4 linked regions of the Homo sapiens genome follow. The protein of the gene in region 1 purifies or fractionates together with the protein of each later gene. This does not show direct contact. Each region holds a gene or a part of one and is shown in the gene's direction. Other genes may lie near its edges. The genes, in order: PARVA, DHX36, GCA and LIMS2.

Region 1 (3,921 bases):
AGGCTGGAGATTTAAATGTGGACATGGACATTAGTTGAATGGGATGACCTAGGACATTATCCACTTACTCTTTTAAAAATTTTATTTTTTAACTTTAAGTTCAGGGGTACATGTTTGTTACATAGGCAAACTTGTGTCCTGGGGGCTTGTTGTATGGATTATTTTCCCATCAACTATAGACTGGATAAAGAAAATGTGGTACATATACACCATGGAACACTATGCAGCCATGAATAAAGAAAGGATCATGTAATTTGCAGCGACGTGGATGGAGCTGGAGGCCATTATCCTTAGCAAACTAACAGGAGCAGAAAACCAAATATGGCATGTCCTCACTTAAATCATGAGAACATACTTGATGATCTTGTGATGGAACCTTTCTACATCCATGCTGTCTGGTGTTGTAGGTACCAGCCACCTGTGGCCATTGAGTACTTGAAATGTGGTTGGTGCAGCTACGGAGCGGAATTTTTAATTCACTGAAATTTAAATAGCTCAAGTGGCTAGTAGCTACTGTATTGGACAGTGCCGATCAGTGTAGCTACAGGAGAGAAAGTCCCAGGCAGGAGCAAGTTCCTTCATTGGCCAGTAAGCCTAGCCTTGCAGCCACATTTAAACATGACTTTATTTCCACTGCTCACTCCTTGCGTAGCAATGCTTGTTAACAAAGTAATGAAAATTGTGCTTCTTTGTGAGAAATAGCCTGAGAAAGAAAGAAAACTGGTAGTTCTAGGGGAGATATTAGAAGAAACTATAGAATTTTAAGGAAACAGTTGTGCTTAGCTGGAAAACAAACACAATCTGTACCTACAGAATCATTTAAGCCAGGGATGTCCAATCTTTTGGCTTCCCTGGGCCACATTGGAAGGAGGAGGATTGTCTTAGGCCACACATAAAATACACTAAACACTAATGATAGCTGATGAGCTATTAAAAATCTCCAGATAATGTCATAATGTTTTAAGAAAGTTTATGAATTTGTGTTGGGCTGCATTCAAAGCCATCCTGGACCACATTGCAGCCCGTGAGCTGTGGGTTGGACAAGCTTGATTTAAGCTTTGAAGGTACCCCTTCTGTGTTTCTGTCATGTTTTATGGAGAATTCTATGAAATAGTCGGTGTCTGTGAATGTGGAGATCAAGGTGGTGACTGGCTGGTACCCTATGTGAATGTCAAAGACCTGCTGCAAAGGTACTAAATACCAGCCTCGCCATGCAAGTTGTGTCTCTTAGGGCGTAGAGAGTGTTTCACTCCCTTTGTTTCTCAGTCTCCTTCCAGTCCAACTGCAGCTATCAGTGAGTGTATTGAGGTGAAAGAACTCTTTGTAAGTGGCTGCCTTGTGCTTAGGATTTCTTGCAAGTCTATGCTGGCAATTGGTGAGGCCAGAGTCAATAAAAAAAATAAAATGGAAAGATGGGACGCTGCTTTTATTAAGGTTGATTGCAGCTGCTGTATTAGCTCTTTAAGAACCTCTTGGTGACCAACGCCTTCTGAGAAAATGGCCTTTCTGTGCTTAATTGGCAAAAAGCAAGGGGATTTAAGTCACTGCTTTTAGGAGGGGTAATCCAAGGTCAGCACTCACCAAACGTCTGTCACACAACTGGTTTTGTGGGAGGAATTCTTTTGTACTAAGGCTCCATGTGGGGGCTGGTCACTTGGAGGAGCGTGGGCTGGTAATCTTTGGTAGTTTTTACCTGTTTTTGTTTTTCTTTCTGAGGAAGGTGGAATTACAGATTTCTAGGATTTGAAGACTGTAAAAGAGCTTACTGTTCATCCAGTCAAACTCTATTTTCAGCTGAGGAAATGGGCCAAGAGAGATGAAGTGCCTGGCCCCAGGTCCCACAGCTGGTTCCATCTCAAGGGATAGGACCAGAGCTCAGGGAAGGGCCAGAACTGAGGTATTTTTGAGCAGTGGCTGGGGTTGGGTGGAGGTGGGAAGGCAGATAATCAGGAGAGTACCTCAGGGAAGCCAGGAGAGGTGAGAAGTCAGAGGACGGTTGAACGGAGGATGGAAATGCCTTACAGCGTACATATAGCCTCAAACCCATGACCCCATTCATCCTGTCAGCACACAGTCGCCGGGCACCAGACAGGAAGTCCTGGAAGATGGGACAGGCAGGAGGTAGAGACTCAGAAAGAAGTCAGTGCCCACCTCGCTTCCATTCATTCCGAAATCTTTTCTGAGAGGAGGGAGATTTCTGTGCTTTTGAGACCTCCCTGCTTCCCTGAGGAAAGCAAGTGAAGTGACAGCTGGCAGAGGTGAGATTAAGGGGACAATTAGGTCCTTTCAGCCAGGCGAGGCCATGAATTGATCGTAGGCTGAGTAACAGCTGTAATCTACCCTTAGTGGGTTTTTTTCTCAATGTCAATATCGAACACCCTTGTTACAGAGCTCCAACCCCCTGCCGTCCGTCAGCTGAAATGTGACCCTGCTCTTCCTTTTCTTCCAGTGTCCGAGCTGCAGGAGGAGGGAATGAACGCCATCAACCTGCCCCTCAGCCCAATTCCCTTTGAGCTGGACCCCGAGGACACGATGCTGGGTAACTGTGCTCTTGTCTCTGAATTCGCTTAAGCTTTCCCATGCCAGCACCCCCACTGAATTCCTTTTCTTTTTAAAGAGGAGAATGAGGTGCGAACAATGGTGGATCCAAACTCACGCAGTGACCCCAAGCTTCAAGAACTGATGAAGGTAAGAAGAAATCAGGAGCGGCTTCAGGTGCCTCACTGACCCACCATGTGTCCATATGCCACCTGCTCTGTGCAGGTACCCCACGAGCCCCTGAGAGAAGGTAAAAAGTCATGGCAGCCCCTGCCTCAGGCAGTGAGTTGTCTAGCAGATGGCCATCGAAAACGTAACCGATTGTTTAAGTGTGGGATGTGACAAATGCCCAGTGAGTGGTGCTGGTCACAGCACCAGACAGTTCAGTACAGGTAAGCTCACGATGGCCAGGATTCCAGAGTGCACAAAATGCTTATTTTCTCAAGGACCCTCAAAAGCAGGCAGTGGAGCAGTAATTAGTCTCATCCCCATTTTCCAGATGACAAAATCAAGTTTCAGAAAAGCCAGATGCTTTGTTTATGGTCATAAACAAGGAGCTGGAACTCAAGCAGAAATAAAGGAGATGAAGTGACATACTGTGCATTACGTACCTGCGCAGTGGCTGGCGTGCGCTTGTCCTTTCAAAACTGTTCATTTCTCCCCTGCGTCTTATTCCCTGTCCTATGTTCCTCCTCTTCAGCTTAACCAAGCTGCACTTAAGACAAAAGGCACTCATGAGTGTCATCCCAGCACTCTGCGGAGGCCAAGGCGGGCGGATCACTTGAGCTCAGGAGTTCGAGACCAGCCTGGGCAATGCGATGAAACATCATCTCTACTGAAAGTACAAAAAATTAGCTGGTGGGTGGATCACTTGAAGCCTGGGCAACAGGGTGAAACACCATCTCTACTAAAAATACAAAAAGTAGCCAAGTGTGGTGGCGCATGACTGTAATCCCAGACCATCTCTACTAAAAATACAAAAAGTAGCCAAGTGTGGTGGCGCATGACTGTAATCCCAGCTACTCGGGAGGCTGAGGTGGGAGGATGGCTTGAACTTGGGAGGCAGAGGTTGCAGTGAGCCATGACCACGCCACTGCACTCCAGCCTGACCCTGTCTCAAAAAAAAAAAAAAAATAGCACTGGATGTCAGAGTGATTCATTCCCCCATGCAAATCTGAATACACGGTTCCCCTGTGCAAGACCTCTCAGAGTTTCTCATCCACCACAGGTTGCAGTCGACTCCTAAGAGGTGGTGTTTAGACTCCTTGCTCTAGCTGCCTCTTCAACCTGAGATCAGCCACTACCCAGCAACACAAGGATGCCAGAACTGCTGCTCCCAGCAGCCGATGCGTGCTCCCAGCGCTCCCCACCGCCAAAGCCTGG
Region 2 (4,000 bases), on another chromosome or scaffold:
ACAGACTTAACCACATACATAATAGAGTTCACAGAAAAAGGTGATTCAGGGAGGTAGAGTTCTGACTTATCTACCATCTTATAAAGGGAAGGAAAGGGGAAAACAGCACGTATGGAAAAAACAAATGACTTTTAGTAAAAATAAATGACACCTTAAAACAGATGCCAGATATGATAGCTTTGTGACAATGTCTATTCAAGTGTGTTGCCAGCTTCTAACCTCCAGTGATAAGAGTCAGTCTTCCTGGGTTTCCCTCCCAGGGAGGAGCTTGATTTGAATTCCTCCGTGTGGTTCTGCATTTAGACAGGTAGATTTCAGAAACTCAAATGTCTTTGCTCAAAATAATTTTTAGGCCACAATGGTGTATTGTAGACCCCTTCCTGGCATACAGCATTTCCCTTTCTTAATTCACTGCACAAAGATAGCCTTTGTCTTTCCCTTAAGACTGTAGGCAAATAAAAGCTCATGCCATACTTGCTTTGTTCAGTGAGTATTCCCAGCACCTTTACATCAGTTAACTGTAACATGAGCTGGATATCTCCTGGTGTACATCCAAGCCTGTGTGGCCCAATTACTTGATTATTCAAGAACAGCTTGTACAAAACACTCAGTGTGCTGGTTAATAAACAGTATGTGGCTTCATATGAACACATGAATCTTCAAAGTAGTTTATTTACATTGCCTAAGAGCTCTGCACCGAATTTGGGTAGACACGCTCATCTTAACACTATTGGATAAACGTACTAAATAGTGACAACACTTTCAAGGAGGTAAGGGGATTTTAAATTACATATTTGAATAGTTGTCAGGCTGTTTTCAAGACTAGAAGAACTCATTTTTTAGAGACTTTTCTTTAGAAGACGGCGAATTGATCCAAGGGTTCTTTTGTTTCAATCAACGTTTACTACCCTAGGACCTAAGTGCAAAAAAACTGCGGATTTACCAGGAATAAGAAAGTAAAAACCAAAAGCTATTGGCTCACTTGCTGGGCCTAGGGAAAGAAAATCTACGAGCCTTTGGCTGGCTGTTGCTCCAGAGGTACAAAGATAAACAACTCGGGGGCTCAGACAGAACCTGATCCCTGCCACCCTCCAGACCACCGGGGTCGTCCTCCCGTGACGTCACCAGAAACCACTGCTTGTGACGCTAAATGGCCCGCCCTCTTGTGCGGTGCTACGGAAGCAAAACGGAAGTGGGCGCACAGTGGCTTCCGGGCCCGGACGCCATTTCCAGCGGTTGCTGGTTCTGACGGGTTGTAGTCTGCCAGGACAATGAGTTATGACTACCATCAGAACTGGGGCCGTGATGGGGGTCCCCGCAGCTCCGGTGGGGGCTATGGAGGGGGGCCAGCAGGGGGTCATGGAGGTAACCGAGGCTCCGGAGGAGGCGGCGGCGGCGGAGGGGGTGGTCGAGGCGGCAGGGGCCGGCATCCCGGGCACCTGAAAGGCCGCGAAATCGGCATGTGGTACGCGAAAAAACAGGGGCAGAAGAACAAGGAAGCGGAGAGGCAAGAGGTAATCTCGGATTCAGTAGTGGAGAGGATGAGGCAGCACAGGTTTTCTTCTCTCTCCCGCTGCCCCCTTTTTCTTGGTTTTGTTTCTTAAGTGATGCACGTGTTTTGTGAAATGTAAATGAGGCGCAAATATATTATGCTGGCGCTCCCCGTAGCGGGTGTACTGCGTAACATTAGCCATGCTCATCTGACCAAAAACAGGCAGGATTTATGCAGGCTGAATATATACTTTGCTTAAAGGACTTGAGAACTGTGACAAAGCAAATGTTAAGTTCACGTTCCAACCGAAATTAACTTTATTAGGAGTGTCGTTGTCGTATCTCTGGCCGTCCTTTCCCTTAGAATAATAATTGTCACTTTAAGGTCTTTGCCTGGTGAAGAAGCACATAGCGACCTTTCTACATTTGAGATAGGTTTGCGCGGAACAAAAGCAGGCAGACACTGTTTTGGATGTGGATCATTCAGAAAAATAGTCCAGCTTTTATTATTAGTGTTAAAATTATCTGCAAACCTAGGTTTTTGTTTTTTATGTTGGGGTGGAGAAATTTCTATTGATGAGCAGATTCTCTTTGAAAAGGAAAATGAAAGGAATCTCCAGAGATGATTTGGCTTACTCTCCTCTCTTCAGGTGATTGTCAGGTTGATTTGTGTCTTAAAGATCTGTAGTAAGGGAAACAAAGTTCTCCGAGTGACTAGTAAATAAAATTCTAATAAAAAATAATTTTTATCATTAAGCAGGAACTTTCTTAGTATAGGCCTTTGGTGACTTTTTAAAAGCACCTTATAAAATGTATTATAGAGTGTAATTAGATCATCATTTAGGCAACTTTTTTTTTTTTTAAGACAGGGTCTCACTCTGTCGCCCAGGCTGGAGTGCAGTGGCACGATCTTAGCTCACTGCAACCTCCGCCTCCCAAGTTCAAGCGATTCTCCTGCTTCAGCCTCCCGAGTAGCTGGGATTACAGGCGTCCGCCACCACCTCCGGCTAATTTTTGTATTTTTAGTAGAGACGGGGTTTCACCATGTTGGCCAGGTTGGTCTCGAACTCCTGACCTCAGGTGATCCACCCAACTCGGCCTCCCAAAGTGCTGGGATTACAGGCGTGAGCCACCACGCCAGGCCTAGACTACTATTTTTAAACCGTTCCATTTCTTTTTATTTCTTTTAACCATGTCATGTTCATTCAGGTGTTTTGGGGGCCTTATCCATTTATCTTCATAATTTAAACTTTTCTTTAAAAAACAAATCCATTTCTTTTACAGCCCCAAATTAACTTTTTCGTTGGGCATACTGGCTTGAAAATCAGGATACGGACGTCTAAGTAACTTTACAACTTTTATTTATTAAGGCTCTGTTTGAAACAAGGTTTTATGCATATTGCTCCAGGGACTTGAAGAAATGTGGTATTCAAAGAGCTTACAGTCTAGCTGAGAAAATAATACCTAAACAGATGAAAAGTTAAATAAGTCAGGAAAAAATGTTCATTATTGTTTCCACATGAAGGGTATAGCCAGTTGTGCAGTGGATGTTATGAATGGAACTTTTCATTTCTACTTGCGTTCCCATCCTCCTTTTAGTGGTGACACGACCATTTATTCACTTGGCAAGGCCAAATGAGATTTATCTTTGCTTCTTCCCCTTCATTTCAGCAAATCTCTGCCTTGTTAATATATCCCAATCTAACCACTTACCTCCAGAATAGTTACCATAGATCAAGCCACTGTTTGTTTTCTGTTCTTGCCTTCTAACTAGTCATCTAGCTTCCATTCTTGCTCTGCATTGTCTGTGCTTTACAGAGCCGCCTATGGTGATCTTTTAAAAGGAAAAATTAGATCATTTTATTACCTAATTCACAACTTCAGATTGGAAGTCATGTCACTTCTGTCTCAGTCTGATATATTTCAGTTGCATCTTGACATGTTCTCTGGAAATCTTGGTAATACGGCTTCAACGTAACAGGTTTACCGCTGTGCACATTTCTCTGAGCCCATGTCTCCAGTCTGATATAATTATAGTTTTTTTAGGCATACTTTATTTTTACTTTTCATTACAGTGTCATACTGTTCTCCTGTCCAAAATGTACCTTTCTTTCTTGTTTAAATAGGAGTATTTTTCAATGGGCTCGTCCCAGCTCTTCTTTGACCACCTTTAGCTTGATATCATTGTTTCCCAGTCAGAATTTCGGTAGCTTTCACTTTTAAAGTCATGTCATGTGTTTTCAAAATGAAGACTTTTTTTTTTTTTTTTTGAGTTGGAGTCTCACTCTGTTGCCCAGTCTGGAGTGCAGTGGTGTGATCTCGGCTCACTGCACCCTCTGCTTCCTGAGTAGCTGAGATTACGGGTGTGCACCACCACACTTGGCTAATTTTTGTATTTTTAGAAGAGACAGGGTTTTGCCATGTTGGCCAGGCTGGTCTTGAGCTCCTGACCTCAGGTGATCCACCAGCCCTGGCCTCCCAAAGTGCTGGGATTACAGGCGTGAGCCAT
Region 3 (3,921 bases), on another chromosome or scaffold:
TTTCTGCTTTTCATTAATATCCAAGAGCTTCTGTTCTATTTTCATGAATGTGATATTGTCCCTTATCTCTCTGAGACTATTAATATATTTTTAAAGTTTTTTCTTCCTATATAACCTTTGTTTTTTCCAGATTGTTTTTTCTCCTCATTTTGCTTGTTTTGGTTGTCTTTCATGTTAGGTGCTTTTCTCAGTTATCTGATGATACTGCTTTGCTCTTATTTTAACTAAATTGCTGATTAGAAGCCCTGAGATCATGGTTAGGCATTGATTGTGGGCTTCACTGTATGGTGATTTGGCTGGGCAGTTTTGTCTTGGAACTCTGGGTGTCAGTATCTTTAGGGATTCCCTTTTGGACTGGGTTTTCAGTTGACCTTCTGCCTGGAAAGGAGAGGTGGACTCAGAAGGGTTCTCAAATCTTTTGTAAATTGTCCTTTAATTGCCTTGCTTTTAGAAGATAGCCCTGTCTCAGCTCTGGTATCTTACATTTCAGAGACTCCTCCAGAGAATAAAATTCCAGATTTCTGCTGGGTTGGAAGTAGGTGTAGCATCCATCCAACTGAACCGAGGCAGGGAGGGGATATGAGGCTTAGAATGCTCCTTAGGTAGACATTCAGCCAATTCTTCTGTTTTTATCTCCACTTTCACACCCACTTTCAGAAGTACTGCCAATTCTTTGGCATTTGGGGTCTTCTCCAAGGGTTGCTTCTCAGCTTTTCTCATTACAAGTTCAGGAATCCATTTTCTCAGATCTAGGTTGGTTAACTCACATCCATCAGCTCTTCAACTTGCAAAATTTTGTTACTTTGTTTCCTGTCTAATTCTCTTTTTCTCTAAAGTTTTATGCCTTAAATCAGTTTACTCTCCATTCTAATGGGCTATGGGGAGGAAGTGAAAAATCTGTCAACTTTCCTGAAAAGTCTGTCTCTCCACTCTTTGTCCTAAATATTTCTTCTTATACATACACATTCCTATTCTGAGATTGAAGATCTGCTCATTTGCTGATTCAGTTTTAGCGATCTATTATCATTAATTCGGATTCTCCCACTTTATGAATGTGTGCCAAGTTAATTGTAAAGCAAAATAGATATTATTTACTTGCCCAAAAGAGGAAATACCATTCCAGAAATTTCTCATGTAATCCCCTCACTCTGACAGTTGTATAGCCTTAGCTTTGTAAACGTGGGGAACTGCCTTTCTGGGTCCCAGTTTCTTCCTTTTTTACAATTGGAACTATTATACGTTTAGCATGTTTATGTGAAATCATGTAACACACGCCACCTTACTCATGCTAAGAACACATTGAGTATCTATTGAGTTGTCAATTTGAAAATACTACAACCAACAATTCTAACATTGATACTATATTAAACATTTAAAGAAAATCAGCAATTTTAACTCTTGGAATGTCTTATAATTTTTTCTTTAGTGGGTCTAAAATTTAGCTGAAATAATTTTCTGCTTTTATAAAATGTTAAGATGTTATGGATAAAATAATTTTGAAAATTTTCATTCATTCATATTAACAAGCTGCTATTAAGCACTTTGTAAATTTAAACTGTACTAACGTGATGTTTTCTTTATCAGGGCATGAAATTAGTCTTGAGATATGTCAGCATACAAATTGAATGTAATTGGATTAGAAAAATTAGAAAAGGATTAGAAAAATTGAATTTTATCAATAGGTCATCAGTTGTAGTTCTATAAATATGAAAGTGTTAATATTTCAAATCACCCCTGGTTTTAAGATAGCTTGTATTGATTTTTTCTTCCTTTTTTCTCCCCCCAACCCCCGAGAAAAACCAGTTGCTTCAATTCAGATGCTCATTTTTTCTTACTTGGTCTATTACAATAAATTACCAATGGACTTACCTATTTCCAATATCATCTCACTTTATATTTTATTCATTGTAAACTAAGTTTCTAAAATGGAAATTTTAGAATTTCCCTTCTGCTTCTGAAAACACTTCAGTGGCTTTTCATTGGCCCAAACTTTTTGGGGGTAGTATTCAAAAGTTTCATGATTTGGCCCTCATTTGCCTTTCTGATGTCATCATATGTCACTCTCTCCCATATACTTTAATGCAAGTTTTGTGATCTCTGAGTACATGTCAAACTTCTACTTTAACTCCACTTGTCATTTGTGTTATGAAGACTGGAAGCCTTCCTTTTCCCCAGGCTTGGGTGAAGCCAAGTGCTTTACATACCTGGAATGTCTTTGTCACAGTAATTTTCAGTTAGTTTGTAATTGCTCATTTAATTAACTTAGTCCCCTCACTAGATGTGAGTACTTTGAAGGCAGTAATTTTTTTTAAACAATGGGTGCTTAACATTCAATAATAGCTTGTTGATTGTGGTGATTTTATATATTTTGGCAGTTTTTTAATGTTTTATTTTGAAACTGGAGATTGTCATAATTTTACATAGATAAAGTTGGGCATACTCTAATTTAAATATTGAATATGTTTTACAGCCTTCAGTTTGGAAACCTGCAGAATTATGATTGCCATGTTGGATGTATCCTTGAATAGAAATAGAAAATACTAGAATAAAGAGTAATTGCTTTCTGACTATCAAGCCAGTGGTTAGATTTCAGTGCCTGTAGTAAACTAGTGAATTTAAAAATACTTTGTAAGATCCTGTTTAAATTCTAGGCTTTCTAGTTTTTATGCAGAAGTCTGTTCATATAATGAGTTTGGCTAAGTCTACAGAAGCATACTCATGTTTTAGTCAATGATTTAGAGTCAGATAAACTCAGGTATCAGAATTTATTTTTGTTAATAAAACTATCAGAGAGATCACACAGGAAAAATGGGATTTAATGCATTCAAAGAGCTATGGGCAGCTCTTAATGCCTGGAAGGAAAACTTCATGACTGTTGATCAAGATGGAAGTGGCACAGTAGAACATCATGAGTTGCGTCAAGCCATTGGTCTTATGGGTAAGAACATTAACATTCTTTAGAATCTATAAAGCTAATCTTTGTTCTTTGATTAGATGAACTTAATTGCTTCAATTTACTAACTAATAAAGGGATGTATTTTTTTGCCAGCAAGTTCCTTTGTTTGTTTTCAAGGTTGTAGGTAAATTCTGACCAAAGACCTCAACAAAACCATTTTAATTATGATTTTTTTCAAAAGATGATCTTCCATACATGCATACATTCTGAATTTCTTCTGTTGTGTTTAAATTTATTTCTTTGTTAGTACTTACCAGTTAGATTGTATTCTTTTATAACTTGGCAGGATATCTAATTGGGAGCCAAAGCTTGCCTCAGTCAGTCAAAAGTCTGTACAAAATAGGTTTTCAGTGGTAGAAACCATGTTTTTGTCTTTTTTTTCTTAGATAGTGCAGAACACATAGCAGGTGCCAAAATACATCAGGATGGAAAGGTTGCATTTTAGAGTAATTTAGAAGTATATAACTTTATTCTTATACCTCTGATAAGCTGATGTTCCTAGTGTACTTTTAAAATGGATAACATACAATGGTGTTTAATTTGCTTAAACTTAATGCAGTTTTAAGTAGCTTTATGAATTGTTCTTATGCTTGTGATTTACACTCTTCTAAACAAAATCTATTTGTATGAAAATTAATTTTTTGGAAGTTAAAATCTGAACCCAATGGAAGTGGGCTTATCTCAAATTGCAATTTAAATAAGTCAAATTAGTGATTTGTTTGGTTTTGTTTTATAAATAGACATTTTAATTTAGTAGTAGGGACAGTCCAGCCCATATAAACATATGTAGTTCAATTATAGATCCTTAATACCTAATGGATTAAACCTGGACCTTAATTCAGCCTAATGTTGGGAAATTAATGTAATCTTTGGCAGAAAAGAAAACCTCCAGAGTTCCCGTTAGGCAGTGGAATGTAAAAAGGGTATTCTGGATTATCCAAATTTAAGATCTTCATGTATATTTT
Region 4 (3,921 bases), on another chromosome or scaffold:
TGTTTAGGAAACTATTGCCTAATCCTGGCTCATGAAATGAAAACATCTGTTTTCTTCTAGGAGTTTTATACTGTTAGCATGTAGCTATCCAGTTGTCCTAGCATCATTTGTTGATAAGACTACTCTTCGCCCCATTGAATGGTCTTGGCACTCTTGTCAAAAATCAGTTGACCACAAATATATGGGATTATTTTTGGACTCTCGAGACAGGGTTTCACTCTTTCACCCAGGCTGGAGTGCAGTGGCAAGATCTTGGTACATTGCAGTCTCAACCTCCCTGGGCTCAGGTGATCCTCCTACCTGAGCCTCCTGAGTAGCTGGAACCACAGGTACACACCACCACACCTGGCTACTTTCTGTATTTTTTGTAGAGATGAGATTTTGCCATGTTGCCCAGGCTGGTCTTGAATTCCTGGGCTCTGCCTGCCTCAGCCTTCCAAAGTACTGGGATTATAGGCGTGAGCCACTGCACCCAGCCTATTTCTGGACTCTTGGTTCTGTTCTATGGGTGTATATGTCTATCCTTACACCACTGCCACACTTACAATTTTTTAGTAAGTAAATTGTAATTTTTAAGTAAGGTGTTTTTTTTTTTTTTTTTTTTTTTTTTTTTTTTTTTTTTTTTTTGAGACGGAGTCTCACTCTGTCACCCAGGGTGGAATGCAGTGGCCTGATCTCAGCTCACTGCAACCTCCACCTCCTGGGTTCAAGCGATTCTCCTGCCTCAGCCTTCTGAGTAGCTGGGACTACAGGTATGTGCCACCACACCTGGCTAATTTTTATATTTGTAGTAGAGATCGGGTTTTGCCATGTGGGCCAGGGTAGTCTTGAACTCCTGACCTCAAGTGATCCACCTGCCTTGGCCTCCCAAAGTGCTAGGATTACAGGTGTGAGCCACTGCACCTGGCCTCTTTGTTTTTTTTTAAAGTTGTTTTGATTATTCTGTGTCACTTGCATTTTCATATAAATTTTAGGAATGCCTTGTCTATTTCTTTAAAAAAGGCAGGAATTTTAATGGAGATTGTATTGAATCTATAGGTCAATTTGATGTAGTGTTGTATTGCCATCTTAACAATATTAAGTTTTCCAATCCATGAACATGGGATATCTTTATTTAGGTCTTCTTTAATTTATATCAATAATGTTTTATAATTTCAGTGAATAAGAAGTCTTGCATTTATTTTGTTAAACTTACTCCTAAGTATTTTATTCATTTTGATGCTGTCCCAAATGGGGTTGTTTTATTTCATATTCAGATTTCTCATTGCTAGCGATTCTGGTATATTGAGTGTATACCTTGCAGACTTACTGAACTCATTTCTTATCTGTAAATAGGGTTTCTTTTTTTGAGGAGGGATTCTTCCGAGTTTTCTATATATGAGTATGTAATATGTAAATAAAAATAGTTTTACTCTTCCTTCTCAAACTAGATGTCTTTTATTTCTTTTTCTTGTCTAACTGTCCTTGATAGAATCTGCAGTGCAATGTTGAAAACAAATAGCGGACTGGAAATCCCCCTGACCTTAGGAGGAAAGCATTCATTTTCTCATCACTAAGTATGATGTTAGCTATGGGTTTTGGGTAGATGCCCCTTATCAAATTGAAGAAGTTCCCTTCTATTCCCAGTTTGTTGGGTGCTTTTATTATGAAAAGATGTTGGATTTTGCCAAATGTGTTTTCTGCATCTGTTGAGATGGTCATAGAGTGTCCTCCCTATATTCTATTGATATGGTATATTACATTGAATTTTGGATGTGAAACCAACCCTATGTTCTTGGGATAAATCCCATTTGGTCACGGTGTATAATACTTTTTATAGAGTGTTAGATTTATTGTATTTTATCGAGGACATTTGCATCTATGTGACTTTAGCATTTTATTTTGAGATCAAGATAATATTTATAGAATGAGTTGTGAAGTATTCCCTCCTAGTCTTTCTTTTCTTTTGTTTGGAAAGATTTTGTGAAGGTTTGTTGTTTTTTGTTTTTTGTTTTTTTCTCTTTTTGAGACAAGATCTCACTCTGTCACCCAGGCTGGAGTGCAGTGGCGTGATCTCAGCTCACTGCAACCTCCGCCTTCCAGGTTCAAGTGATTCTCCTGCCTCAGCCTCCTGAGTAGCTGGGATTATAGGCATGTGCCACCACACTGGTGTTTTGTATGTTTGTTTGTAGGTTTGGTGTTAATTCTAGTTAAACCTTTGATATAATTCATCAGTGAAGCCATGTCGCTCTGGCTTTACTTTGTGACAAGTTTTTTGGTTACTGTCTCAGTCTCTTTACATGTTACTGGCCTTACTAAGTGATTTGGGTAGGCTTTGTGTCCCCAACTAAATCTCATCTTGAATTGTAATCCCTATAATCCCCACGTGTCAAGGGAGAGACCAGGTGGAGGTCATTCAATCATGGGGGTGTTTCCCCCCATGCTGTTCTTGTGATAGTGAGTTCTCACAAGATCTGCTGGTTTTATAAGGGGCTCATCCCCCTTTGCTTGGTATTTCTTCCTGCCACCTTGTGAAGAAGGTGCCTTGATTCCCCTTTGCCTTCTGCCACGACTATAAGTTTCCTGAGTCCTCCCCAGCCCTGTTCAACTGTGAGTCGATTAAACCTCTTTCCTTTATAATTTACCGAGTCTCATGAAGTTCTTAATAGCAGTATGAAAATTTAGACTGATACATTTGGATTTTCTATTTCTTCTTGAGTTCGTTTTGGTAGTGTCCTTCTAGGAATCTCTCCATTTCAGTAGGTTATTTCATTTATTGGCATACAGTTGTTCATAATATTCCATTCTGCTACCTCCTTACTGGGACCACGAGCTATTATTATTCAAGGAAGCCATGGAGTTAGGGAGCAGGAATAAGGGACTAGGATAAGTTAAAACAACACAAACCTCACTGGTTTGTGTTTGTTTGTTTGTTTACCAAGATTCATCTGTTTTTCTTGACCAAATGTTCCTAGGGTTACTGAAAACCTTTGGTGGATTTGCAGAGTTCTGAAAGAGTAGATTCTGATAATTTTTGCTAGGTTTTTCATTGCTTTTATGGAGGGATGAACTTCTGGAGGTCCTTACTCCACCACTTTCTGCTGACATCACTCTCGGTGTTTTTGCAAATATCTAGAGCCAGAGCACTGAACCAAATCCCATTTGGTCATGGTGTATAATACTTTGTATAGAGTTCTAGATTCAGTTTACAGTATCTGTGGCTCCCAATCCCATCCCTGCAGCAGGACAGGCTGCAGAATGGGTGGTAAGGTTGTGCAGAGATTTGGGATTTGGGCTCAATCAGACTCTAAGCCTCTCTCAATTTCTAGCCTTCGATGTCCGCTTTTATAGTAAATATTTGTTGAATTGATTAGTACTTGGTAAACTTGTGCTTGAACTTCATTTACAGATTATGTTGCACAAAACACTTGTGGCTGTAGCCTCCTTTCCAGTGCTATATGTGACCCTTGGAGCCCTAAATAAATGTTTCCTCCTTACAGAAAACTGCGGGTCTGCATGAGAGTCCTGGATTCTAGTGTTGAGGATTTCCACATGGATGGGCTGAGTCGGGAGTGGTGAGAGGGTCTAGGCCCTATGGCATTGACTTGTAGCTGCTGTTAAGAACATTTTCGGTGTAAGTTTTCTTAAGCATTCGGCTACCTACATCAGAGAGTCAGCGGTATTCCCTATTCATTTTGGCTCCTCTGGGCTCAGCTTCTCCATGCCCTTTAGCCCCTGGGGCCACCTTTAAAAACTATTTGTTGAACTGATCAGTGTTGGGCAACTTTGGAATTGGACTACATTTACAAATTATACTGTACCCAATGCTTGTCGTCACTTGACTGCCAGGGTGCTTAATGAGTACCTCCTCCTGTTGGGACTTGCTGGGTGAGTGTGTTCCTCAGTGGCGTGTGGGCCTGGTATCTGAATGCCAGTGAGCCC

The links.
Region 2: the proteins of PARVA (region 1) and DHX36 purify together in Homo sapiens (affinity purification with mass spectrometry; one large-scale study listed by BioGRID and IntAct). This does not show direct contact.
Region 3: the proteins of PARVA (region 1) and GCA purify together in Homo sapiens (affinity purification with mass spectrometry; 2 studies listed by BioGRID and IntAct, with this or other methods). This does not show direct contact.
Region 4: the proteins of PARVA (region 1) and LIMS2 purify together in Homo sapiens (affinity purification with mass spectrometry; one large-scale study listed by BioGRID and IntAct). This does not show direct contact.

What each region holds. Positions count from the first base shown.
Region 1 is NC_000011.10:12,471,296-12,475,216, forward strand, and holds part of PARVA (alpha-parvin), read left to right. Parts: intron 1-2,449; coding exon 2,450-2,539; intron 2,540-2,617; coding exon 2,618-2,688; intron 2,689-3,921. UniProt on the Homo sapiens protein: Plays a role in sarcomere organization and in smooth muscle cell contraction. Required for normal development of the embryonic cardiovascular system, and for normal septation of the heart outflow tract.
Region 2 is NC_000003.12:154,321,688-154,325,687, reverse strand, and holds the start of DHX36 (ATP-dependent DNA/RNA helicase DHX36), read left to right. Parts: upstream 1-1,200; 5' UTR 1,201-1,271; coding exon 1,272-1,514; intron 1,515-4,000.
Region 3 is NC_000002.12:162,353,968-162,357,888, forward strand, and holds part of GCA (grancalcin), read left to right. Parts: intron 1-2,470; coding exon 2,471-2,514; intron 2,515-2,790; coding exon 2,791-2,938; intron 2,939-3,921. UniProt on the Homo sapiens protein: Calcium-binding protein that may play a role in the adhesion of neutrophils to fibronectin. May play a role in the formation of focal adhesions.
Region 4 is NC_000002.12:127,665,375-127,669,295, reverse strand, and holds part of LIMS2 (LIM and senescent cell antigen-like-containing domain protein 2), read left to right. Parts: intron 1-3,921. UniProt on the Homo sapiens protein: Adapter protein in a cytoplasmic complex linking beta-integrins to the actin cytoskeleton, bridges the complex to cell surface receptor tyrosine kinases and growth factor receptors. Plays a role in modulating cell spreading and migration.